Linked DNA regions of Homo sapiens: regions 1, 2 and 3 are each reported to be linked to region 4. Evidence: microRNA targets listed by miRTarBase, many of them from high-throughput screens and not tested one by one. Region 4 holds a microRNA gene; each other region holds the end of a gene's coding sequence.

Evidence for each region. Region 4 holds the annotated microRNA hsa-miR-376b-3p (AUCAUAGAGGAAAAUCCAUGUU, at 2,890-2,911, shown strand). A microRNA usually pairs through its seed, bases 2 to 8, with sites in the 3' UTR of a target mRNA and lowers its output. Matches are read on the target gene's strand: a 7mer-m8 pairs with bases 2 to 8, a 7mer-A1 pairs with bases 2 to 7 and ends in A, and an 8mer does both.
Region 1: the mRNA of ZNF266 is a reported target of hsa-miR-376b-3p. Seed matches in the 3' UTR shown: 7mer-A1 at 336-342.
Region 2: the mRNA of DCAF17 is a reported target of hsa-miR-376b-3p. Seed matches in the 3' UTR shown: 7mer-A1 at 3,252-3,258.
Region 3: miRTarBase lists RS1 as a target of hsa-miR-376b-3p. Seed matches in the 3' UTR shown: 7mer-A1 at 2,810-2,816.

The regions. Positions count from the first base shown.
Region 1 is chr19:9,405,771-9,413,541 of GRCh38, reverse strand. ZNF266 (zinc finger protein 266) reads left to right here. Exons shown (of 11, transcript NM_001370374.1): 11 at 1-1,113. The coding sequence ends at 267. It overlaps LOC112268250 (a long non-coding RNA gene), which reads left to right and starts at 6,482. Exons shown (of 3, transcript XR_002958434.2): 1 at 6,482-6,692.
Region 2 is chr2:171,480,511-171,488,290 of GRCh38, reverse strand. DCAF17 (DDB1 and CUL4 associated factor 17) reads right to left here. Exons shown (of 14, transcript NM_025000.4): 14 at 3,239-7,317. The coding sequence ends at 7,177. Among named protein-coding and RNA genes, the nearest start is that of CYBRD1, 38 kb to the left of the region's middle.
Region 3 is chrX:18,638,517-18,642,516 of GRCh38, reverse strand. It overlaps RS1 (retinoschisin 1), which reads left to right. Exons shown (of 6, transcript NM_000330.4): 6 at 361-2,829. The coding sequence ends at 513. CDKL5 (cyclin dependent kinase like 5) reads right to left here. Exons shown (of 18, transcript NM_001323289.2): 18 at 2,321-4,000. Among named protein-coding and RNA genes, the nearest start is that of RS1, 32 kb to the left of the region's middle. RefSeq lists a silencer at 1,684-1,853.
Region 4 is chr14:101,037,608-101,045,539 of GRCh38, forward strand. MIR376B (microRNA 376b) reads left to right here and starts at 2,829; the gene lies at 2,829-2,928. It overlaps MIR376C (microRNA 376c), which reads left to right and starts at 2,083; the gene lies at 2,083-2,148. It overlaps MIR376A2 (microRNA 376a-2), which reads left to right and starts at 2,462; the gene lies at 2,462-2,541. It overlaps MIR654 (microRNA 654), which reads left to right and starts at 2,612; the gene lies at 2,612-2,692. It also overlaps MIR376A1, MIR300, MIR1185-1, MIR1185-2 and MIR381HG.

The DNA of each region.
Region 1 (7,771 bases), not on the chromosome of region 4:
AAACCATTCACGTGTATGGAATGTGGCAAAGCTTTTAAGTTTCCCACGTGTGTTAACCTTCACATGCGGATCCACACTGGAGAAAAACCCTACAAATGTAAACAGTGTGGGAAATCCTTCAGTTACTCCAATTCGTTTCAGTTACATGAACGAACTCACACTGGAGAGAAACCCTATGAATGTAAGGAGTGCGGGAAAGCCTTCAGTTCTTCCAGTTCCTTTCGAAATCATGAAAGAAGGCATGCGGATGAGAGACTGTCAGCATAAGGAATGTGGGAAAACCTAAAGGTGTCCCTGTTCTCTCTGAAGACATGAAAACTCACTGGGGAGAAACCCTATGAATGTAAAAATGTGGAAGCAACTTTGTATCTCAGGTCTTAATGAACACATATGAATTCACAGTGGAGAAGACCCTGCATCAGGGAATGTGGAAATGACTTTGCTGAATTCTCAAGCCTTACCAAACACATCAGAAATCTCACTGGAGAGAAACTGTATGAATGTAGAGAATCTGGGAATACCTTTCTGAATCCCACAAACCTTAATGTGTGTATGTGAACTCACATTGGAGAGAAACCCTGCAATTTAAATGGTATGGTCTGGATGATGCCCCACTCCATATTTGTAAGCCCTAAGTCCTAGTTCCTTACACTATAACTGTATTTGGACATAGGGTTTTCAAACAGGTGAGTAACTTCAAATGAGGTTGTTGGGTTCGATCCCTAATCTGACATCACTGGTGTCCCTATAAGGGAAACTGAAGGAAGGATACACATGGAGAAGACTGTGTGGATCCACCAGAAGATGGCCATCTACAAGCCAAGGACAGAGACCTGGAACAGATGCTTTCATTATGGCCTCCAGAGGAAACCAACCCTGTCTCCACCTTGATATTGCACTTCCAGGCTCCAGAACTGTGAGGCAATAAATTTCTCTTGGTTAAATCATTCAGTCTGTTATTTTGTACAGCAACCCTAGGAAACTAATACTGTGAGGAACTTGGGAAAAGCTTTAGATCAAGCTTGTCCAACCCGCAGGCCAGGATGGCTTTGAATGCAGACCAACACAAATTTTTAAGCTTTCTTCAAACATAATAAAATTTTTTTGTGATTATTTTTTCCGTTCATTAGCTATCATTAGTGTTAGTGTAAACACAAAAGCAATCACAGGAGAGACGTTCTATGAATGTAGGACATGTGAAGAAGTCTGTAAGTGCTCATCAGATCTTAATACTCACTTCCAACTCTTGTGGTGATAGGCCCTGTGAAAATCAAAGACCATCAAGAAGAGAAAGTTTCTTTTACTATGAAAGTCATAAATGTGACTTCACCCAACATTTAGTGACTTAGAGTGGACTGAGGCTCCATTATTAGTAATGTGGAGAGATTTCATTAAATGTTTATACCTTACATGAGAAATAAAAATTCACAGTGTAGAGAACACTTCTGCTGTAAGGCACGTGGGAAAGCTTTTACTAATTCCACGAGGCTCATTTTACATATCTAAAATTAGACTGCAAGTGAGCCAAGACCCCTACACTCCATCCTGGGTGACAAAGCAAGACTCTGTCTCAAAAAAAATAAAATAAAATTAGACTGCAAATGTCCTGGGAATGTAGGGGAATGTATGGCAACCTTTAAATATCTCACATGCCATAATGTTAACATGAAATCTCACATTGGAGGAAGAACCTGTGTATCCCAGGGATATGGTGTCACCTTATTTCATTGCTCAAGCCTTAATATCTTTGTGAGAATTCACACTGGGGTAAAACCCTGTGATTATAAAAAGGATGCAGGAAGTACTTCATTTGCTTCTCATATCTTACTGTATCACAGTTCATAGCCATGTGAATGTAAGAAATATGGGAAAGCTGTCAGAATCTCTTCACAACCCAGCAGGAAGTAACTTGCAATGAGACCACACAGTCTGTGAAACATGGAAAGCCCTTTGCTGTTATCTCAGGGATTGCTTAAGTAAGGTTTTGCAGTAGAGAGAAATCCTATTAGTGTAAGAGGTTTTGGAGAGTGGTAGTTCAGCTAAATAATGTTGACTTCTCAGATTGGAAAACTCTGACCAATTGAAAATGTTTTATTACTCTTTTAAAATATCCGTGTTCACCTGGTGCAGTGGCTCAGAGCTGTAATCTCAGCACTTTGAGAGGCTGAGGTGAGTGGATTGCTTGAGCTCAGGAGTTCAAGACCAGCCTGGGTAACCTGGTGAAACCCCGCCTCTACAAAAAAGACAAAACTTAGCTGGGCATGGTGGCTTATGCCTATAGTCCCTGCTACCCAGGAGGCTGAGGCAGGAGAATCATTTTAGCCCAGAAGGAGGTTGCAGTGAGCTGAGATTGTGCCACTGCACTCTAGCCTGGGTGACAGAGTCAGACGCTGTCTCAAAACAAAAAATCCATGTTTCAGAGCAGTTTTAGGTTCACAGCAAAATAGTGTGGAAGGTTCAAAGACATCCTATATTCCTGCGGCCACTACATATGCATAGCTTCCACCATCATCAACATACTCCACCAGAGTAATACATTTGTTAGAATTCATGAACCTGCATTGCCACTTCATTATCACCCAAAGTCCACAGATCATCGGTCCTCCCACTATTCCTCCCTCCCTCTCCCCAGCCCGACAACCACTCATCTTTTTACTGTCTCCATAGTTTCGCCTTTTTCAGAATGTCATAGAGTTGGAATTGTGCAGTACGTAACTTTTCAGATTGGCCCAAAGTGATAACTTCACATCCTTCTTTTCCAGTTCAAATGTTGCCTTTTTCAAAACCACTCATGGCCTGCCCCGCCCTCATCCTGTGCCCATAAAAACCGCAGGCTCCACTAACAGAGTAGAAGAGGGTGGGGGCTTTAGTTCTGTCTCTAGAGCAAAGCCCACAGTTATTGGTTAATGAATGCGTTAAGGCACCCACACCTTCCACCAATGTTGAGCTGTGTTCACCCCATGGTGACTTTTGGGGCAGTGGATTGCAGGGTGGGTCTGGAGTGCCATGTGACTGCTCTGCAGGACTTGGAGACTGGTGAAATTTCTGCACAGGTGGCTTCTGGAGCTCCTGGACAAGGCGCACCTTTCCTCAAGAGCGTGACTCCTTGATGCTTGGAATCTGGGTGAGGACAGGATGAGGACATTTAAAAATACTGTTTAGTGTTAGGTTTTTAACTCATTGTTTAATTCTCTGACACAGCAGCTGAGCTTTTTTTTTTTTTTTTTTTTTTTTTTTTCTTGAGATGGAATTTTGCTCTTGTTGCCCAGGCTGGAGTGCAGTGGAGAGATCTTGGCTCACTGCAACCTCTGCCTCCCGTGTTCAAGTGATTCTCCTGCCTCAGACGCCTCAGTAGCTGGGATTACAGGCACGTGCCACCACGCCCAGCTAATTTTTGTATTTTTAGTAGAGATGGGGTTTTGCCATGTTGGCCAGACTGGTCTTGAACTCCTGACCTCAGATGATCTGCCCCTCTTGGCCTCCCAAAGTGCTGGGATTACAAGCATGAGCCACTGCACCCGGCACTGAGCAATTTTTTAAACCAATATATTCTTTGGTGCAGCATCTAATTTAATACTTATTTTAAAACCTAATCCTTTAAAAATCTTTTATTTGCCAGTTGATAGAGAATGTCTGTTTTAAACACACGTTTCTAATGTATAAATCTAATGTTAGCAATACAATTCCAAACCCTTTACTTATCAGTGGGTATTTTATTTAGCAGAGACTGTATAAAATGCACTGCTAGCCAAACTGCTTTTGAATTTCTTTTGCCCCAGATCTCTGGTTTTTGGAGGCTTCATTAAATAAAACTAATAATCCTCTATTCACTTTTTAAGAATTGTGGTAAAGTATATTACATAAAGTTTACATTTTAACCATTTTAAGTGTCCACTTCGCTGGCATTAAGTATACTCACATTGTTGGGCAACTGTCACCATCATCCCACTAAAAAATGTTTATCTTCCCAAACTGAACCCAGTAAACACTAACTCCCTACTGCTCCCTTCCCAATCTCTGGCAAACACCATTCAATTCTCTGTTGGAAACAAGTGCTCGACATAGCCAAAAGAAACCCCCTAGAAAATTTCTCCGCAGGGCACCTTTACTTCTGCAGAAGGGTGCTGCTTGTGCCCGTTACGATCGCAAGAGCACGATGAACAAAGAAGGGAAGGAGTTTTTAATTTAATGCAGTTCCTGTTTCTGTGTCGTCCCCCAATTGGCTGGGATTGGACTGCACAATCTAAGCTGATCCCGATTGGCTAAGACTTAAACTTTTCCAAATAGGGTAAATGTGCGATTTGTGGAAACAGAAGAGAAGAAAGGGGGTAGGATTGATGTACAACTTTTATAACTTATGATCAGAAAGTTGAGTCTTTGAAGAGGAACTTAGTTGTTCCAACATGTGTCTGTGTTAACCCCACTACTGTAGGTACCTCATAAAAGTGAAGTCCCAGTATTTGACTTTTTGTGACTAGTTTATTTCATTTAGCGTAACATGTTCAAGGTTCATGTTCATGTTCATGATCAAGGAACATGTTCAAGGAACATGTTCATGTTCATGTTCAAATTCTGCACATCTCAGAATTTCCTTTTTTAAGGCTGGATAATCTATTGTATGGCTATACCACAGTTTGATTTGCTTTCACCTTTTCAATATTGTGAATAAAGCTGCCATGAACATGGGTGTACAAATAGCTCTTCCAGTACCTGCTTTCAACTTTTTGATTAATATACCCAGAAGTGGAATTGCTGGATCATACGTTGGTATCATTTTTTAGTATTAATGTTTATTTTCCAACTCGGTCTTGAGGTTTCTCTCTTGAGAAAGGCCAAAAGCCAATATAGCCACACTCTTTTTTTTAATTTTTTTATTTTAAGAGTCTTGCTCTGTCATCCAGGCTGGAGTGCAGTGGCACAATCTCAGCTCACTGCAACCTCTGCCTCCTGGGTTCAAGTGATTCTCATGCCTCAGCCTCCCGAGCAGCTGGGATTACAGGCATCTCCCACCATGCCCAGCTAATTTTTATATTTTTTGTAGAGACGGGGTTTCACCATGTTGGCCACACTGGTCTTGAACTCCTGACCTCAGGTGATCCACTCACCTTGGCCTCCCAGAGTGCTGGGATTACAGGCCTGAGCCAACATGTCCGGCCCGAGATAGCCACTCTCTAGGAGAGCTGGTGGAGGATGTTAAGTTCAAGTGTGTCAAGTGAGACACAATGAGAAAGTGAAACCAAAATCAATGAAAGGAAAAAGTTTATTATAGATTCCAGAGAAGTTAGGGGTGCTGAATAATGGCCCACAGGAAGTCCAGAGACAGTATGGTGCTCAACCTGTGGGTAGGTTACTGGAGAGATGAAGAGACAGAGAGGGCCTGTGGGACTGTGCCTTTTAAGGACCATGGGTTTGTCCTTCAGTCTTTCTTCACGTGACTGTCGATTGGCTAGGGAAAAAAATGAAGGGGGGAATTTATTTACATGACTGTGGTGTTGGTCATTAGCTTTTATAGGAGTCAGCAGCTGTGAGATGAGGAACACGTGGGTTATATCAGGAAACAACCGCACAGGGAGAGGAAGTTTGTCAGACCTAAAAGCGTAGCAGCTTTATATTAAACAAATTATGACCTATGGCAATTCTACATTTATTCCCTATCACTTTTTTATGTTTTTAGGAGACAGGGGTCTGCCCAGGCTGGTCTCTAACTCCTGGGCTCAAGCAATCCTCCCATCTGGGTCTCCCAAAGTGCTGGGATTGCAGACGTGAATAAAACACCCGCCCCAAATCACTTTTAAATCCTACCACGTCTTGGCAGGTGTTTTATTCACACGGATATTTAGAAAATGCCAAAAAGGGTTTGTGTGTGTGTATGTGTGTGATATAAAGGTTCTGGTTTGGTTGTCAAAAATATAGGAAGAACTACAGTACACAGGGCTTTAAATTCCAAAGTTTTTCTTTGCTTGTAGACTGATATTTATCATAGTCCCTGGAGGAGGGTGTAAGGCCTCCAGCGACCCAGGATCCAGTTTCAGAGACTTCTTCATTAGGTTAGTGAATGTGGCCAAGTTACACCGCCCGTCCATGCCTCTGTTTTCCATCCATAAAGAGGGCAACATAAAAACGCTCTTGAAGGAGAAGAAGGGGAACCCCTCCCACGGCTCCAGGAGACCCCTGTGCAGATTTCACCTGGGGTCTGCATGGCCTGAAGGGTGGCTCTCCCACAGGCAATCCCGCCTCCAGGGCATCGCCCCGCCCCATTGTCTCCGTCTTGGTATCGCCCCGCCCCTTCTGCCTTTCCCGGGGGACGCTGGGATCTCTCTACTAGCTTTGGAAAGTCGCGGCTGTAGCGCCCTTCTAACGTCACCACGCGGCTCTCGTGGCTCCTGTTTCTCAGCCCATTCCAGGTCACCTCCCCCCCCTCCCCCGTTGCCCTCATGCCTGGAAACGGAAGTGCGCTCCCGGAAACGGAAGTGAATGCCGTACTCCGCGTGCAGGCCCGCCTCCTTCCACATCAACCAGTCTAAGGTTGCTCCCACCAGACTAGGAGGACTGGAGAGTAGGGTTGGGGTCAAAGGGTAGCCTCCTGCAGGTCGCCTCCTCCTGTGGCTTTCCCGGACGTCGCGCTGGGACTTCCTGCCGACACCGCACTTCTTCCCAGACTCCCACCTGCGCCGCTGGGGGCTTGGGTCCAGGTAAAAGGCGGGTCGGGAGTGCGGGCAGCGAGCTTCGGTGGGGCCTTTTCGTCCGCGGTCTCCCCTTTCCCAAGCCTCTTCATCAGCCTTTGCAGACTTTCTGCAGAAGGAAGAAAATCTCTTGCTGGAGTCGTGGTTGTTTTGTCCCCAGCAGCTTCACCGACCAGGGGATTCCAGCCAGTTTGGGTGAACACTGGGTGAATTTGTTCTTTTGGGGGATGTTCTTTATATTTGGTAAATTATGTACAGGTGGAGAAATTAGAAACTCATTGTTAGGGAGTACGGGCATCTGACACAATTAAATGCATGGGTGAATGAATGCATGTAAATGCAAATTTTACTGTCACGGAAAATCAGCTCGGTATTCAGCTCAGAACCCTGTAAATCTCTAAGCTTCAAAATACAAGCATCTCCAGAGAAAAAAAGAGAACATGCAGGCTTGTTTTTGTATCACAAATGGGAATTGAGTTGACCATAAACAGCAAGAGCCTTTTCCAAGTGGATTTTCCTTACCTTGTTAATTTGGAAATTTTCAAACTGAAGAAAATGTCAAAGTCTGGTACAACAAACCACCATTGCCCTAGATTCACTAAGTAATTAATCTCTTGTCATTTCCTTTTTTTGAGACAGTCTCACTCTATTGCCCAGGCTGGAGTGCAACAGCACGATCTCCGCTCATTGCAACCTCCACCTCCCAGGTTCAAGTGATTCTCTTGCCACAGCCTCCCAAGTAGCTGGGATGACAGGCGCAGACCACCACACCCAGCTAATTTTTGTATTTTTAGTAGAGACGGGGTTTCACCATGTTGGCCAGGCTTAACTCCTGACCTCGTGATCTGCCCTCCTGGGCCTCCCAAAGTGCTGGGATTACAAGCACGAGCCACCGCGCCTTGCACATACGAAGGTTTATAAGCTAAAAGTAAGTTGACGGTGAGGTAGGAGGCGGGACTAGACTCTGGAGTCTAGTGGGCTTGGACACCCCACCAAATTGAAGACTAGCTAAAACAGGTCTGTGCCACATGAATATTTTTTTTTGGTGTCTCCACTATTGAGTAGGTTCTCAGGTGGTCAGGGCCTCT
Region 2 (7,780 bases), not on the chromosome of region 4:
TATGGCAAAAAAAATTGCTAAATTATTGGTAATTTTCTTTTGAAAATTTCATTTAAGAGGTCAATTTATAGATGCATATTATCTTGGCAGGTAGAGTGTCCTGAGTATGAATTTCACTTTCACCGACTGTTACTTTTATGAATTTTGTTAACTAGAAGTTTCATCACTTCCGTGGTGATCCAAGGTTTCAAAGTACATTGAACTAAAATAGGTTCAAGGCATTAACTAGGTCAGAGCAGGTATTAACTAACTTTAGACATAATTTAGATATACTACTTTAGATATGAAGTATTTCTGATATAATTTTATTCAGTATATGATCCTTCTGAACTGAGATAAGACTGGGAGAGGCTGGCAACATGCCCAGAGCTTCTCCAAGGTTGTAAGTCCTGGGAAGAAAATAATTTGAGTCTGTTAGTATTTGTGTCTTTGGCCGGGTGCAGTGGCTCACACCTGTAATCTCAGCACTTCGGGAGACTGAGGTGGGAGAATTGCTTGAGCCCAGGAGTCTGAGAACAGCCTGGGCAACATAACATAGTAAGTCTCTCTCTCTCTTTCTATTTTAAGTGCAGAAGATTTTGGCTAGGCACCTGTAATCCCAGCACTTTGGGAGGCCAAGGTGAGTGGATCACTTGAGGTCAGGAGTTTGAGACCAGCTTGGCCAACATGGTGAAACCCCATCTCTACTAGAAATACAAAATTAGCTGGGCATGATGGTGCACACCTGTTGTCCCAGCTACTTGGGAGGCTGAGGCACGAGAATCTCTTGAATCCGGGAGGCGGAGGCTGGAATGAGCTGAGATTGAGCCACCGCACTCCAGCCTGGGTGACAAAACGAGACTCCGTCTCAAAATAAATAAAGAAAAATAAGTACAGAAGATTTCACTATGTCATCAAAAAGATATACACACAACAAATAAACATGAAAATGTGCTTATCATTATTGGTCAAAAGGGAAATGTAAATTTAAACCACATTGAGATGCTACTACCTATTAGAATGTCTAAAATTAAAAAAAAAATCCAGGGTCCTGAGATCATAAAAACAATTTCATATATGTAATATATATATATACACACCCATACACAATTAAAAAGATTGGCCATATCAAGTGCTGGCAAAGATATGAAGCAACTAGAACTCTCATATACTGATAATGGGAATATGAAGTGGTACAGCCATTTTGGAAAACCAGTTTGGAAACTTCTTAAAAAGTTAAGCATACACCTAACATAGGAGCCAGCCATTCCCTCCTCAGTATTTACCCAACATAAAGCGTATGTCCATACAATTATACCTCGTAGCTTCATTTGTAGTAGCCCAAACTGGAAACAACTGAAATGTCCATCGAAAGGCCACAGTATAAACAAACTGTAGACATATCCATACAATGGAGATTACTCCACAATAAAAAGGAATGATCTATTGATACATGCAATACAGATGAATCTCCAAATAACTGTACTGAATGAAAGCAGCCAGCAAATAAAAATACTTACTATTTCATTTATATACAATTCTAGAAAACACAAACTAACCTGAAGTTACAGAAACAGATCCGAGGTTGTCTTGGGAAGTGGGGACAGAGGGGCAGAAGGGAGGGATCACAAAGGTGCAGGAAAAAAAACTTTTTGGGTAATGGGTATGTCCTTTATCTTGATTGTGGTGATAGTTTCATGGCAAAACTTATCAAATTGTGTACTTTAAATACATGCAGTTTACTTTGGAAGGCCCAGGCAGGCAGATCAGTTGAGGTCAGGAGTTCGAGACCAGCCTTGCCAACATGGTGAAACCACATCTCTCCTAAAAATACAAAAATAAGCTGGGTGTGGTGGTGCCTATACTCCCAGCTACTCTGGAGGCTGAAGTGGGAGGATCACTTGAACCCGAGAGGCAGAGGTTGCAGTGAGCTGAGATCGTGCTGCTGCACTCCAGCCTGGGTGACAGAGCGAGATTCTGTCTCAAAAAAAAGTGTTTACTGCACGTCAATTATACTTTAATAAGTCTATAAAGAAAATTTAAAGATCTCTGATAATTCTAATAATTTGATTTTATTTGCTGACATCTTTTTATTGGATTTACCACCTTTGCAAAGTTGGTTTTTCTGAGAAAAAAAGTGTAGCCAAAATTCTTTATGAAACTAAAATTCAATGTTGTCTCTAATCAGGAATAACACTTGTATTCATGAAAACAAAGAATTAAAGGAGAGTATCAGACAAATATTACAGGCTATTGCTGATCTCAATCCTCCCTTTCCTTGCTATTGTCTGTTAATCTCAGTGGGTTCTATCTGAGAGCTTAGTGTTCACAGCATGGTGTTTTTTAATGTGCCTATATAGGAGGCTGAGTGTCCCCCTCCTTTCCACCTTCACCCTTCTATAGGACTCAGGTTATAATGAGGAAAGGAACTGAACCTGCAAACTTTGGCACAAATTCTAAGACACTTGAATTGAGAGTCAAAAAGAGTATAAATAAATAAATACTTCTGAAATTTTGTGCACCTCTAAAATTTGAATATACTAATTTGCTATCACAACATATCCGGCCTAGAATACTACAGTTAGTGAGAAAAGGATACAGCTTGTTTAATATGCTCTCATATTAGAGAAAAAAAATTCACCTGATTTCACCTGTTATCATGTACATGATAACACGAACTCAACTTTTGAAGAAAAAAGTCACCTTTCTGCTTTTATTATAATGATTGTTGTGACCTCTTCTCCAGTGCCATTTTGTCCAGCTCCAGTAGTCATGTGAAACGGTGGAACACGTGCCCTTAGAACCCAGGTTGTTCCCAACTATGATCTCCATTAAAGGAATCAGGGTTCTTTGATGAGCAATGTATCCCATGTTTGAGAAAGAATAATTCAAGCTGAGTTTTGGGGTATCTTAACTATTATCACAAAGGATGTTTTCAGCAGTTCCTGGGGAAGGAAGGAGGTCAAGTTGACAAGAGGGTTGCTAACCACAAGTAGAAACAATCTGAGTATCAACTAGAAATGATTACACACCCAGCATAAATACTAAGATAAAGAAGACTAACAACCACACATGCTGGAGAATGTGTGGAGCAAGTGGAAGTCTCCTACATTGCTGCAAGCATGTAAAATCGTACAATCCTTTGGGGAAAAGGTCTGGCAGTTTCTTATTAAACTAAATATACACCTACCCAAGGACCCGAAAATTCCATCCCCAGGTATTTACCCAAGAGAAATAAAGACACATGTTCACAAAAGAATTGTCTAAGAATGTTCATAGCAGCTTTATTCATAACAGTAAAAAACAAGCAGAAAGAGCCCAGTGTCCATCAACAGAAAGATAAAAAAACAAACTGTGATATATTCATACGAAAGAATACTCAGCAATAAAAAGAAATGAATCACTGACACATGCAACAACATGAATAAATCTCAAAAACATTATGCTAAGTGAAAGAAGCATTACATTTTGTATAATTTCACTCATATGAAGTTTAGAACAGGTAAATTTAACCTTTGATATAAAAGAATGAGAACAGTAGTTATACCTGAGGGGTGGGGAGGGGATAGACTGGGAGAGGGATTTAGGAAACTTTCTGAAGATGATTGCAATGGTCTAAATTTTGGAAAGGGTTTGGGTTACACAGGTGTATATGTCTGCAAGAACTCAGTAAATTTATACTTAAGATTTGTACATTTTATTGCAGGTAAATCTTAAATCAAAAAAATTTAAAAACTAAATAAATACTAAACTCTAGTTAATAATCTGCAGTTGAAGTACTAGGGGGAAGTATATCAGCAACTGCAATTTATTTTGAAATCCATCAAAAAGTACGCTGGATAGGAAAATAATAAAACAAGTAGAGTAAGATGTAGAATCCCCGTGGTCAGTATTTACTATAAAATTCTTTCAATTTTACTGTATGTTTGAACATTTTTCATAATAAAATGATGGGAAAAAGACCTCAGTAGGTCTTATCTTTCTATTGTATGTCCCTTGTTTGAAATAAATTATTCTTTCTGCAAGATACAGATTTGATAGCAACACAGGGACCAGAAATTAGCTCCCTGGGATTCTAAAAGATGGATGATATAAGTAAACATGGTAAGAAGGAGAAGAAAATATAAAAATGATTAATATGGAAGCCAAATAATATGAAAACTACTAATACTGATTATCACCACAAACAAAGGGAAAGTACCTTTTAATGACTGCTAACCATTGAATGAAGAACTACATTTTCTGTCAATTTATGTGTGACTTGTATCTTACCCAAATTTGTTCAAAATTTAGACACTGAATCATCAGTAAAAAACGATTATTAAGCACTTTCCTACATATCTAGTATTATAGTTGTTGGTATGCTAAATTGGGATAAAATAACATGCCTTGCCTTTTGAGAACTTTGGAGGAAATTTGGCACAAGTTCATGCCGAACAAATCTGGTTATGTTTCCCACCTCTGCACTGACTAGTTGTGGGACCCTGGGCCAATTAACTTCTGTGAGCCTCACTTTCCTCATTTGTACAAAGGGGAAAGATAATGGCAGTTCATACTTCATGTGGTTATTCTGAATATTAAATGAGACAACCCACTTTACTTATACTGTATCACAGTGACTAGTAGATAGAAAGTGCTCAATAAATATATTATTTAAAAAAAGAACTGTAAGATACAAAACTTTCAATTGGTGGAAGAATGTGAAGTGCCTTAATTTGTCTAAACAGAGCGGTATCTCCTCACTAGGTAGCACAAATAGTAAATAGGATAGGATTTGTTTTGTTTTCTCCCAGAGTTGTGATAAATATTGTAAAAAATTGAGGAACAATAAGCTTGCTGCATTGATGCTCTGAGAATGCAGAAACTTAGATCCAGGAGTGCAATGCAGAATGCACCTCTTTTCAGCGTAACGTCTGTACCTGCTGATGGAAGCTACCCTGCTTCACCTGGGCTTGCATTAAACACTCAGAATTGTTACCCATAATGTTTTGTACCTGTCACTAGTACCTGTTAAGTAGGTGGGCATGTAGCTAGAGTCTCGAATTAAAATATCAGGTAAAGAGGGGGTTTAGGTAGGGCAGGAAGACATTAATGTCTGGCAGGTGGCAGAATGAGCAGCTGTGTGACACTCTGGCGAGCTGGGAAGCATGCTTCATTGTCTCTCGCTATGTGTGGTATCCAAATTCCCCACATTCTTTGCTATCTTCTGTATCTTCTGGCATCTTTTTACCATCTATCTTGTTAACAACCATGCAGCCTACATTCCCACATACTGTTGCAACTGGCTGAAACTAAGCAGTAGCAGCTGCTCCTTTTAGTTGGGGCATAGCTCTCCTGTTTGTTACACTGCCCACAACTCCTTACTGTCTTTCACATGAGGTATATTTCCTGCCTGGCCTGGATGGCATTTGGACCCTGGTCTAGTTAGATTTAGGCAGTGGTGACATACTGGGGGTTTCTTAGTGGTAAGTTATATCTAGACCAGAAGTATTCCACCATCTACCCCCAGCAAAAAAGCAGCCAGGAATTCAGCTATTTCTCAAATGCCTTTCAGAATAGACGAGTTCCTTACTATCATTTCATAAAAGGAAGGTGATGACTTAAAGGAGAAGGAGAAACTCAATAATCACCTAAAAAAAAAAATCTCTGACATGACTGAAGTCTTAAGACATCCTATTCTGAAACACTCTTGGAAATGGAGAATGAACACTCTACTTTTACACAGCATTGCAGCTGCTTTGAAACTCACACAACATTGGTTTCTTTCTTTAGTACTTTCACTGGCCTCTTACTGGTCTTGTTTTTCAAGATGTAAGTTTACTGAGTGGGACTATTTAGATACAGCTAGTGTCTAATTGAAAGTATGGGGCAATGTCTAGCACCAGGGCAGAACTGGGAAGAATTCACATCATTCTTAACATGGCATCAAGCCAAAACTGAAAAAAAAAATGGAAAGATTTTAATATAAATCATCCAAGCTAAAAATTCCATATTTTAACCTTAAACTTGAATCAGCAATGATTGTTGCTGCTGTTTCCTTCCCTTATTACCAGTTATTCTTTTGAGGTTACATCGGATAAATGTGCAGAACATGCGAAATGGAAGCAACTGAATTTCTCAAACAGGAAGCACAAAGAAACATTTTCTCCCTTTACTTGGGTTGCCTTTATTTAACATTCTAAAGAATGATTATTAAAAGTCAAGGACCATATTTAGATCTTTCCTAACAAAGAAGAAATAATGCTTGTTCCATAAGTAAGCCAAAAATTTTCTCTGGTTAATCAGGTAACTCCCAAGCTAGTAAGAACTTCTTCTGGGACTCTTTATCCACTTTTCTACAGGAAACAGAACTACTGCAGGCAAGGGTACCTTTATCTTATTGCATAAGTATGCAAATATTGCCTAAACAAGATCAGAAAACTCACTAAATGAGTAGAATGGTGAGATGAGAACATCCTTAGATACATTAAGAGCTAAACAGGATGCAAATCAGAAAACAATTTCACTTAAGGTTTGCTTGGAATCTTTTACATTAGCCTATATAGAAACACAAATATTCAATGTGAACATCAAGCCAAGAGAACAAAACCAAGGAAGAAAAGATAATTTGGGAACTAGAACCAATTCCTGATACTATATACAAATACGAAACACATATAAATACATATATAAGATTTTTAAAAACTGTGATGACACATTTTGGGCTCAAAATAATGTTCTCACATAACACATCTCATTTCTCATCCTTAAGCAAAGTTTGGTATAGAGGATATAAGATTTCTTTCTGCATGTTTACTTTTGTCTCTCCCTGTCTTTCCTAGCCTTAACAAACAAAATTCCATACCATCCTTTAAGAACTCATCAATGACCCACCCCATCAATGACTTAACTCCTCAACAATTGGAATTAACCTGTCCTTTTCTGTTCCCAGCATTTTATATTTGCATTACCACCTAGCTCAAAGCTGCAAAACACTAAACTTCTTGGAACAGTATTCTAAAAAACCTTTAAAAAAAATGAAGTCCTCACCATCTTTTACAGCAAGAGTTTAAAAAAGAAGTCATAGTCATCTGAAGTCAACACAAGACTTTTTTGGAAAATACTGGAGAATGTGCCATGCAGATAATAAAATGGATTGGACGCAGCTGCTGGGGTGTTTGGCTAAAAGTCTCTTAGGTTACAATTATCTCACTCTTTTTAACAGCTTCTGTTTATGGTTTCTTCTTCTTCCCCAGTGTCACATATCATCTGGTAAACATAGCAGCTGAAGACTCTGTTGGGTTTCTGCTCTATGTGTAGCACCAAGTCTCTGTCAAAGTAGACTTCATGGCTATATGTCTGTAACAAAACACAATCATATGGAGTCCTTTTCACACAGCCATATTCACTACTGTGTTACTAAAATGTCACAGTACCTATGCTAGGGATCTTCAAACATACACTTAGAAGAAAATAGTTGCTAGAAAGAGGTTTATTTTTCATTATTTGTGGATATGCAGATTATTAACAAAAAAGGCATTCTACAAAATATAGAGAATAAAAAGAACTCTGGACCCAGGAGTCTAAATACCCAGATTCTATTGCCAACGCTGCTATTATCTATCTCACTGTGTGATCATTTACGAGGTGCCAAACTTCCCAGGTTCTCCACTGATAAAACAAGACCTGGATAAAATGATGTCTATTGTTCCTTACAACTTTGACATTCTATAATAGTTGAAATATCAGACAAATGTATACAAGAGTACCTGGGAATCCCGCATGCTTAGATATGGTCTCTAGTAAATAATTGTGGGGATTA
Region 3 (4,000 bases), not on the chromosome of region 4:
ACCCTCCAATAGAACTTTCTGTGATGGAAATGTTCACATCTGCACTGTCCAATATGGCGGCCACTTGAAATGTGGCTCATGTGACTGAGGAACTGAATTTTTATCTAATTTTAATTAATTGAAGTGTAAACAGACATATTGGCTAGTGGCCACCCTATTGGATGGTGCAGTTCCAGATGTCCCAAGCATGTAGGTGTGATGACAATCACTCAAGGTCAGATTTTGGGGGGCACCCGCAAACTGCTTTAACTACTTCCTAATCATTTCTATAGTTAAAAGTTGGGGCTAGCTCCAGAAAGGAACCCTTCTTCCTTTTCCCTCCCCGATGTGATGGTGACAGGATTTCCTCTATCTCTCTAGGTCTTCTATGGCAACTCGGACCGCACCTCCACGGTTCAGAACCTGCTGCGGCCCCCCATCATCTCCCGCTTCATCCGCCTCATCCCGCTGGGCTGGCACGTCCGCATTGCCATCCGGATGGAGCTGCTGGAGTGCGTCAGCAAGTGTGCCTGATGCCTGCCTCAGCTCGGCGCCTGCCAGGGGGTGACTGGCACAGAGCGGGCCGTAGGGGACCCCCTCACACACCACCGAGATGGACAGGGCTATATTTCGCAAAGCAATTGTAACTGCAGTGCTGGGTAGATAATTTTTTTTTTTTTAAGATATAGCTTTCTGATTTCAATGAAATAAAAATGAACTTATTCCCCACTCAGGGCCAGAGAAAGTCAGAACAAAGAAAATGTCCCCGAAACGAATTTTCTTACAAAAGCCTAAGTAGCAGGGGTAATTTTCTGCTCATTTTTTGTCTCAGTGATACTGTGAAAGGTGCAGTCTCAGGGGAACACAAAGCAGCCCTGATAATTTGAAAATTCATTTGCTTTACCACATTCAAGACAGAAACATACAGTTTCCTAAAGCCTGGCTTTGAATGCAGAAGGGAGCAGCTCCTCCTAGTTAAGTTTCCACTAAATCATCGCCAAAGAGGACTTCAGAGCCCTGGGGAGGCAGCTGAGGGTCTCAAGGGTGACTGGGTGGCAGGGATGAGTGCGGTGGGTGAGAATCCCGGTGCCCTGAGAGGCTATACGTGACAAATGACCAAAAGCCCAAGGTAGGGGAGTTTCCTCTGCTCACAGTTCTTACCTTCAAGGCGGATCTGGGCTTCCACCCTCATGAACACAGGGATTGGGGAGGGACCAGAGCGCCCAATACACACAGCTCCATTATGCAATCCATTCCAGCAAATTCCCCGTGTCTGTGGTCACCATTTAGGTGATCATACAGGACAGGCTGCACATCTCAGTATATGTAGGGACCCCAAATGACCACAACACAGTACAATTGCCCTTTACCTAGGGCTACCATTTCCTAGCAAACCAAACATAGTTCGAGAACAGCTGGCCCAGGAGCTACCACTGGCTACTCAGAGGAGGCTCATTAGCTGGCTACATGCTTCGCAGGAAGTGGGAAGGACTCACATCATAAAAAGGACCATGTAGCTTTTTCCCTGAAAGCTTCTCACCCTCCACCCTCTGCCTTGCAATACGCAAACTGCGCCTGCTCCTGAAAAGCTCTCTGGGAAGGAATGGGCCTGGCTTTCCGTTCCTGGAGGCGGCGCCTTAGATTGGGAGGCCTCATTGGCCACTTAGAGCGCAGCCTGAGTTTCCAGGCCCCTTCCTGGGAGAGGCTGTTAACACGGGGGAGGGGCAGGAGAGGGATATGGAGAGCAGGTGGTGGAATCAGAGGACGAGGCTGCTCTAAAGACTGTTCTGGCCCCAGACACAGGGTAGTCTTTGCTAGCAGCTCATTTCCGAGTTACTTTTCATTTTCAAATGCCAAGGCAAGTGACTAGACTCGCGCTAATACAGTGCTGGACAACACATTCACCTTTTCTGTGAACAGGCAGCCTTCTAAAAGCCCCAAACATCCTTCTTGATGCTTTGGGGGCTCAATTATTTTATATCCAACCCAGCATCTTTCTAGTCCCTATGCTGTATGCTTGAACTTCGGAAAATGCTTTTCCCCGCCCAATCTTCTCTCAAATATAAACACATCACACAGGGTGTTGGGGGTGGGGGGGGGGGGTGGGGGGACTTATCCCTGGCCTTAGGACACAGGACAAATCTATTTTGGATAGAAATGCCTGAACAGAGACCCTTATTTGGAAAGGTGAATTAACTTTGGTCACGACATGGACTGTCAGACAAAATGGCAGTATCCTAAGAGTTAAGGCACATCAAACACAGGAGTCGAGAGAGTGCAGTTCAGGGAAAAAGGAGAGGAGGAAACAGTGAGGCAGGGAGAAAGGCTTTCCAAATAAGAGTTCATGTTGGAAACTTTTGTCACGGCTTTATTGAGATTAAGTTCACATACAATTTGTATCCATTTAAAGTGTACAATTTGATGACTTTTGGTATATTCAGAGTTGTGCAACCATTATCACTAGATCAATTTTAGAAAGTTTATCACCCCAAAGAGAAATCCTGCACCCATCAGCCAACACTCCCCAACCCATCGGCCACCCCAAGCCCTCTGCAACCACGAATCGACTGTCTCTGTAGATTGGCCTTCTGGACGTTCTACATAAATGAAATCATATAGTATGTGGTATTTCGTGACTGGCTTCTTTCACTTAGCATAGTGTTTTAAAGTTCATCCACGTTATAACATGTGTATCACTATGTCACTTGTCACTCCTTTTTATTGCTGAACATCATTGTTCAGTATCATGTCAAGAGCACATTGTTATTTATCCATTCATCCATTGATGGATATTTGGGTTTCCACTCTTTAGCTATTATGAATAATGCTGCTATGAACATTTGTGTATAAGTTTTTGTGCGGATGTGTGTTTTCATTTATCTTGGGTATATACTTAGGAGTAAAACTGCTGGGACACACAGTCACTCTTGTTTAATCTTTGGAGGAACTATTATCCCAAGTGGCTGCATCATTTTACATTTCCACCAGCAATGTAGGAGGCTTCCACTTTCTCCACATCCTCAGCAACACTTGTTACTGTCCATCTTTGACTATACCCATAATGTGTGAAGTTGCATCTCAACTGTGGTTTTGATTTGCATTTCCCTAGTGACTAATGATGTTGAGCATCTTTTCATGTGTTTACTGGCCATTTGTACATCTTTGGATAAAGGTTTTTCAGATCCTCTGCCCATTTTAAATCGGCTTACAACTTACTGAGTTTAAGAATTCTTTGTATATTCTAATTCCCTTATTGGATATGATTTGCAAATATTTTCTCCCATTCTGTGGATCTTTTTAACCCTCTCGATAGAGTCCTCTTAAGCACAAAATTTTAAATATTTGATGAAGTCCAATTTATTTTTCTCTTTGCTTGTGCCTTTGGTGTCATATCTGAGAAACCACTGCCAAATCCAAGGTCATGAAGATTTACCCCTATGTTTTCTTCTATGAGTTTTATAGTTCTACCTCTTACAGTTAGATCTTTGTTCCATTTTGAGTTAATTTTTGTATATGGTGTGAAATAGGAGTCCAACGTCATTCTTTTGCATGTGGATATCCAGTTGTCCCACCACTATTTGCTGAAAAGACTATTCTTTCCCCCATTGAATGATCTTGGCACCCTTGTCAAAAAACAATTGACCATAAATGTGAGAGGGTTTATTTCTGGACTCCAAATTCTATTACCTCACTTTCTTCATTATTGTAGCTTTGTAGTAAGTTTTGAAATTGGGGCATGTGAGTCCTCCAACTTTGCTCTTCGGGATTGTTTTGGCTATTCTGGGTTCCTTGAATTTCCATATGAATTATAACTAACTTGTCCATCATTGCAAAGAAGCCAGCTGGGATTTCACATTGGAAACTGCTCAATACTTCAGAATTTAATAAACAGTAAGATATACGATTCATAAGACATTTATCTGCAGATAATTTGCTTACAACAGCATATTATTTACTTCATTCAATTCATGACAGAATGTATAAAAACTAAAACTTTTATTGAGGGAAATCTGAAGCCTAA
Region 4 (7,932 bases):
AGCCCCGACCTGGGGGAAGTGGCCTTGCTCTGGCTGGTATGTGCAGAATGCTTGTCCATGTAGACGTGCTTTATTTATGCCAAATCGTGCTTGGGGGCTTCGGGGGATCAGACTTGCTTCCTCAACAAGCTGTGACTGCAGGGGAGGGACTGGCTAATAGCAGACAATGGGTGTTATCTGGTCCACTCACTGATCCATTCGCCAGTAGGAGGAATGTCTAACTCTGCATGTGTGAGAAGTAGTGGTTTTCAAGTACAAGACTTTTTTGAACCAGTTCCAGCTTTAGAGAAGTGAGATTGGTGTAGGTTGTCCGTGTGTGGAATGTGAATGGAGGGTGGGACATGGAGCATACGCTTTGCTTGTGGAAAATGTCTCCTGGTCCTCAGAACTGAAGCCGTTTTAGCGGCACTTCCTGGAGTGATGGCACCCTTGCGAGATAGGGTTTGAGTCTGGGATTATTGGTCCTTCATTTTTTGCTATGGGAGGCATGTGTTGTCGCTATTTTAGTAAGCCTCTGCATCCACTCCACCCCAAAAATGATTTTTCTGGAAGCTGTGATCATTGTTTTTGGAGGGTGGTATTAGTGGTGGTGGTGGTGGTGGTGGTGGTGGTGGTGATGGTGGTGGTGGTGATGGTGGTGATGGTGGTATTGGTGGTGGTGGTGGTGGTGGTGGTACTGATGGTGGTGGTGGTGGTGGTGGTGGTGGTGGTGGTGGTGGTGGTGGTACTGATGGTGGTGGTGGTGGTGGTGTTGGTGGTGGTGGTGTTGGTGGTGTTGGTGGTGGTGGTTGTGATGGTGGTGGTACTGGTGGTGTTGGTGGTGGTGGTGTTGGTGGTGGTGGTGTTGGTGGTGGTGGTTGTGATGGTGGTGGTGGTGGTGGTATTGGTGGTATTGGTGGTGGTGGTGGTGGTGGTGGTACTGATGGTGGTGGTGGTGTTGGTGGTGGTGGTGTTGGTGGTGGTGGTGGTGGTGGTGGTGGTACTGGTGGTGGTGGTGGTGGTGGTGTTGGTGGTGGTGGTGTTGGTGGTGTTGGTGGTGGTGGTGGTGGTGGTGGTGGAGGGTGGTGGTGGTAGGGGCTGGTGAGCATCATGTTTTGCTACCTCTCTCAGTTGTATTTAAAGAGACATTGTTTTTGACCTGTTTGCCTATTCCTCAGTCTGTCACACCAACATGACCAGTCCTGCCGATTGAAACTTTCTGGACACAAGCTTCAGTCTCTGGAAGATTCTTGGGTGTCCTTCTCCCTCCAAGGTATGTGAAGGATGCTCCAGCCCACAGTTACATGACATTGGTCATTAGGTGCCTTGGGAGGGCTTCATGGAGGCGATGTGACTTTAGGAACCTGACAGGCTTATTTTCTTTTTGTTTTTGATATTTTTCGAATTCAAAGCATAGAATCCCTACTTTGCCTGCTTTACTTGTGGCAAATTTTTGATGTACATTCACTTTTTTTTTTTTTTTTTTTCAGAATTAAATGCTACTTTGGAAACGCTCTTGACCATGAAGCCTCCATTAGGGAAGAGACATTAGGGTTACCCCCACCCAGACGAGTGACAGCAGGGCAGACCCCAAACTTACGTTTGCCTGCATAGGAGTTCCATCTCTGGATGTGAAGAGGCCAGGGGTGGGCCCTGCGCTTCCCACGTGGGACTCGCAAAGTGCTCACCTGCTTCTGTTACCTTCTGTCTTTCATGAATCATGTTTGCGTTTGTGCTCTCCAGGGCTGTTCCCACTTTTCCCATCTAAAAGGTGGATGTTCCTTCTATGCTTACAGGATTTATGGTGAATCATAGAGGAAAATCCGCATTTTCAGTATCTAAGGCTGCTTTTAAAACATTTCTGAACATTTCTGAGAGGAAGGTTAGCTCCCTCCCCCATGCGGAGAGTGATGGAAGGTGAATCCCAGAACCTAAGCTCTTGTTAGCAAGGTCTGTCCTGGGACATGCGTCCTCCGCAGGGCCCATGTCACTGCCGCTAGCCCGGGAGGCCCCTGCCGACTGCACCTATCCTGTGCTGTCTTTAATTTTGATAGATTGTGCTTAGGTTCATGCTTTCCAGGACTCAATCCTTCTTTGGTATTTAAAAGGTGGATATTCCTTCTATGTTTATGTTATTTATGGTTAAACATAGAGGAAATTCCACGTTTTCAGTATCAAATGCTGCTTGGAAACATTCCTGGACTGAAACCACCATCAGGGAAGAGACAATAAAGTCCCCCCCCCCACTCCAGGGTAAGTGGAAAGTCGGTGGACCTCAGAACATGTGCTGAATTCGTGCCATATGTCTGCGGACCACCCACCCGCCTTGAGGAGACCCCTCTCGCAAGCTGCCCGCTCGGCCAAGCGGCTGGGCTCCGTCGTCATTTTCTCCATGAGGCCGAATGCTCTCCTCTGTGCTATGTTACTTTTGTGTTTGATGGATTGTACTTAGGTTCGTGCTTTCCGGGATGAAACCTTCTTTGGTATTTAAAAGGTAGATTTTCCTTCTATGGTTACGTGTTTGATGGTTAATCATAGAGGAAAATCCACGTTTTCAGTATCAAATGCTGCCTTGGGATCATGGCTGGACTGAAGCCACCATCAGGGACGTGAGGTGGGGCTGAGCCCTCCAGGGTAAGTGGAAAGATGGTGGGCCGCAGAACATGTGCTGAGTTCGTGCCATATGTCTGCTGACCATCACCTTTAGAAGCCCCCTTTCGCTGAGGAGCCAGCTTGGTGCACAGGCTGTGGTGTGTTGTCACAGCTATGCTACGGGACTGAAAACGGTTGCTTTACTGTCTTGCTTCCATTTTCCATGAACTGTGTTCAGATTTGTCCTTTCCAGAGCCCAGTCCTTCTTTGGTATTTAAAACGTGGATATTCCTTCTATGTTTACGTGATTCCTGGTTAATCATAGAGGAAAATCCATGTTTTCAGTATCAAATGCTGCTTTGGAAATGTTTCTGGAAGAGACCGTAGGGCCTGAGTAGGTGCAAAGATGGTAGGCCGCACGTCGTATCTGAATGAACGGGGTATGCCCGAGAACCATCTCGAGACGCCAACTTGGTGAAGATTAAATTGTGGGTCTCGTGGTGCCAGTTCTTCCCTGGAAGCTCGTCTGCCTCATGTGACTTTCTTTTCTGATGACTCAAGCACAGGTGCACGCTTTCCTGGATGGAATCCTTCTTTGGTATTTAAAAGGTAGATTCTCCTTCTATGAGTACATTATTTATGATTAATCATAGAGGAAAATCCACGTTTTCAGTATCAAATGCTGCTTTGAAAACCTCGGAGGACGTGAAGTCGCCATGGAAGAGGAGATGTTATCTGTACCCCTCCTGGGTACAGGACGGACAGACACAGAATTGTACTTTGTATGAAATACGCCGTCAGCTTCTCTGCTGTTTGCTCACTGCCCTTGGTGCACACATAATGTGTTGTTACAAGGCTGTGTTCTCAGTATTGCCTCATTGACCTTGAATGAAGTTTGTTCTCTGTATGTTTACCATGATTGCAATGCATTTTCTGGAATGAACCTCTTTTACTGTGACTAGTTGTACCTTAGAGAATACCTGAGTGGGCTGTCAATTTCAGGAAGGGGCACTGCTTCAGGGGCTATGGAAGGAATAGATGTGTGATTCACCCACGGGCCTGCACTTCACACCTCGGTGTGCTGCTCTCACCATGCAGATCCCATCTGTGTCTCTAAGGCTTGCTCCTGGAGCTGGTGGCAACTTAGTCACAGAGGAAATGGCCTTCCTGTCACTGCCATCATTTGCTACTTGAAGAGAGGTAATCCTTCACGCATTTGCTTTACTTGCAATGATTATACAAGGGCAGACTCTCTCTGGGGAGCAAATCCTGCCTGGGAAGCCTTCTTGGGAACAAGGCTGACTCCAGCAACCTGTTAGATGGCCAGGATAGCCCTGGGGTGTGGATGGTTGACCACAGGGCATGTGCCTCTGTCTTGCTGTTTGTGACCTGGTTCTCTGACCCTCCTCATCTCATGCTTCCTTCCAAGAACTTTCTGGAAGAGATGCTGGCTTTGGAGATGATATAGGGTTTTCTCTTCAGACCACCTGTTCTGCCTAGCAAAAAGGGCCTACCTTGGCCGGGCACGGTGGCTCACGCTTGTAACCCCAGCCCTTTGGGAGGCTGAGACGGTGGATGGCTTAAGCCCAGGAGTTCGAAACTAGCGTGGGCAACTTGGCGAAACCCCATCTCTGCAAAAAATACAAAAATTAGCTGGGTGTCATGGTGTGCGCCTGTGGTCCCAGTACTTAGGAGGTTGAGGCTGGAGGATCACTTGAGCCCGGGAGTTGGGAGGTTGTAGTGAGCCAAGATTGTGCCACTGCACTTCAGCCTGGCTGACAGAGACCCCTGTCTCAACACAATAGGTTAAAAAAAAAAGAAAAGAACAAAGGGCCTCCCTTGATGGGCCCTACTTATCACAAAGCATCCATGGGCTGCTACTCCGGCAGGTCTGCCCAGCATGATGCCAGCCTCTGAGAAGAGGTCTCGTGGTCAGTGCATCTCCCAGATACATGAAAGAATGACCGTCAGCAAAGTCAATGTCTAATGTAGATGTGGGTCATCTGGTCTACCCACTCTCCATACCTAGCCCATCCTTGGAGTGACTTTTGGACCTCACTGTCCACTTGAGGGAAGGCCAGTCCACAGGAAGGAGGCCCCAGAGCACCCAGTGTGGCTACAGGACTTGCTGCTGGGACCTCTAAGCCCCACTGCTCTCTTAGTCCATTGGTGTCCTTTAGGGATTCTTGCCAATGGAAAGACCCTTGGATTCCTGGTGTTAGCATGTGTTTATTCAGAGAGAGTTGGCCCATGAGAATCTCATTTTCCTTTGACGAATCTTGCCCTAGATGAATACTTCTGAGTAACAACTAACTGCTCAGATGGCTTTCTGAATACAATGCCAAATTCAGGAGAAGGGACACTTGTCATAGTGCTGCTTTGTGATTTGCAAACGGAGTGCGTTGGATTTCTGTTTCTCTTTTTTCTTTAATGATGCATGTGACTGCATCTTCTAACCTCCCTTAGCCAGTGTTCACCAGGAGGGCTTCCTGGAGGCAGTGGCTTTGGGCAGAGGCAGAGGTTCTTCTCCCAGGGTGTTTTTGCAGGCCCTAAAGGGATTTCAGCCATTTTACATTTACATTATTTCAAATGGTACAGGATTGCCTGTCTTTTGGTAACCAATCCTGTCGTGAAGAGATGCTGGGAAGTAAAGTCAACTGTATGGCAGGCCCCAGCTCCAGGGCCAGCCAGATGAGGCTTGTCACCTGGCCCCTCCCCCTTGGTCTCAGGCCTCGCAGGAGGAGATGTCCACTCCGGCGAAGACCCGGCATAGTCCTCACCTGCTCTTTGAGCCACTCTTTGGTACTTGAAGAGAGGATACCCTTTGTATGTTCACTTGATTAATGGCGAATATACAGGGGGAGACTCTTATTTGCGTATCAAACTCTGTCGAGGAAGACGCTCAGACCCTGCTGTCTCCAGGACAAAGCCTCGGATGTCAGCCCCTCTCAGGTACGGCTTGGCTTCCCTGTCTGGGAACGTGAGCTTGGCTGTGATCCTAGCCCTTGGGTTCTGCCTTCGCTCTCTGTGCTGGTTCTTCCTGTGGACTCCCTGGAGGCAGTGGGAGAGGAGGGTCCTTTTTGTGTGCACTGAGTTTAATGGTGGTTTGCTTTTTTTAAGGATAAATCACATGGATCTGCCTCTTCTCCATACCAAGTCATACCCAGAGGGCTTCCTGCGTCCAGCACTAACCTCGCACCTCTCCGGACACACGAATGGGTGGTGGATGGTGGAGCGCAGAGCTGATGCTGCTTCTCACCTGCTACTCCCCTGACCTGCCACTCCCTGGTGGTCTCCATCCTTGAGAGAGTGTCAGCCTTGAGGGAAGCACATGGATGTCAGGTTGTTCTAAGGCAAGTTACTGGTGGAGCTCCCTGAGCCTGCCTGTGCCCTCTGGGACTGTCGCTGGACTCCAATGGCCAGTCCTCGGAGCACATTGTCCAGTGATTGCACCTGAGTGTGCCTTGGGCAGGTGTGTCTGGTCTTCAGGACTCCTTTGTCGCTAGAGTCTGACGCTGGGGCCCTCTTTTTGTTTGTTTCGAGGTAGGTACAGGTGACACATTCTTGGATCTGGTCATCTCTAGGACAACCAGCCTCAGAGGAGAGACATTGTCTCAGCGCTCTCCAGCTCTGAGAATGCCTGCAGATGCCTTCTTCTCTGATAACTCCATGTCTTGCCGGGCTGAGCCCTCACACCCTGTGCCCCTTTGGAGAAAGGTGATGGTTCCATTGTCCATGTAGCTTGTGGGTATTTGAAGCAGGTTCACCCATGCATGCTGAGCACACTGATAGTCATGCCTACCTGTTCCCTTGTTTAGAAGCCAGTCTCGCCTGCAGGGAGTCCTGGATGTGCCACCTTTCGGGGCCAGGCCACAATGTGCAAGGTGCAGGCCCAGCTCCAGGGTCAGCCAGATGAGGCTTGTCACCGGGCCCCTCCCCCTTGGTCTCAGGCCTCGCAGGAGGAGATGTCCACTCCGGCAAAGACCCGGCATGGTCCTCACCTGCTCTTTGAGCCACCCTTTGGTACTTAAAGAGAGGATACCCTTTGTATGTTCACTTGATTAATGGCGAATATACAGGGGGAGACTCTCATTTGCGTATCAAACTGTCGGAGAAGACACTCATACCCTGCTTGTCTCCAGGACAAAGCCTCGGATGTCAGCCCCTCTCAGGTATGGCCTGGCTTCCATGTCCGGGAACGTGAGGTTGGCTGTGACGCTGCCCCTGGGTTCTGCCTTCGCCCTCTATGCTGGTTCTTCCTGTGGACTCCCTGGAAGCAGTGGGAGAGGAGGGACCTTTTTGTGTGCTCCAAGTTTAATGGTGGTTTGCTTTTTTAAGGATAAATCACACATTGATCTGCCTCTTCTTGGTACCAAGTCATACACAGAAGGCTTCCTGTTCCCAGCATCAGCCTTAGAAGGGGGACCTGGATGTTGGATCATTTCAAGGGGAACACAGACAGCAGTGATGGTGGACCACGGAGCACTGGCTCTGTCTATGCTGTTTTCGAGCCTGGTAGGCCAGCCCCAGGAGGGCTTCCTGGAGGTGGTATTGACCTTGGGGAAGGGGCTGAGGTGTGCTCATCAGCGCTTTTTTTTTTTGATGCTTGGGTGTTCATGATCCAGCTCGCAGTCCCCAGGCTGAATCTGTAAGAATGGTTTGCTTCTATTTGTCATTTGTGATTGCCCATGAAGGCAGCGCTGGGGATGAGCCGTGGGAGCTGTCAGCCCCGCACCAGGTGCGTGCATGTGGGAGGTCAGAGGGCGCCTGCTTCTGCCTCGATGTCTGTGCCCCGTCTCTGACTGCTGGCTTTCTGCTCACACCTAGGATGGCTGCCTGAGAATGGGACTCTTGTTCTGTGTTTGTGGAGACACTCCTTGGGCCGTGTGACTGCCGGCTTTTTACACCCCGACTGCCATGGGGGTCATCTGGACCCGAAGCCAGCTTCAGGAAGGACATTCGCAGCATCCTCAGCCCAAGGAAAGCGAACGTCCAGCTGAAGAGAGGTGAGCACCACGCCTGGGTAATGAGTCACATAACCTGCCACCTGGACCAGGCGGCTCCCGCTCCTCTCCCCTTCTTGAAGGAGAGACCACTGTGGGGAATGGGCTGTGGGTCTGCTTCCTCAGTTACTTGGGGGTACGTGGGGTTTACTACTGTTGACCCTGTGCTCTTTCTTAGCATGGCTTCATGGCCACGATGCCAGCCTCTGGCAGGGGTGGGGCAAGGGCTGGCATGGAGAATGACACTGGTGTCAACGGCTCTGTGAGATGGATGAAGGGATGGTGACCACAGGGCCTTTGCTTTGTCTAAGGTGTAAATTCATCCAGTGCCTGGGACCTCGGTGCTGAGTGCATCCTT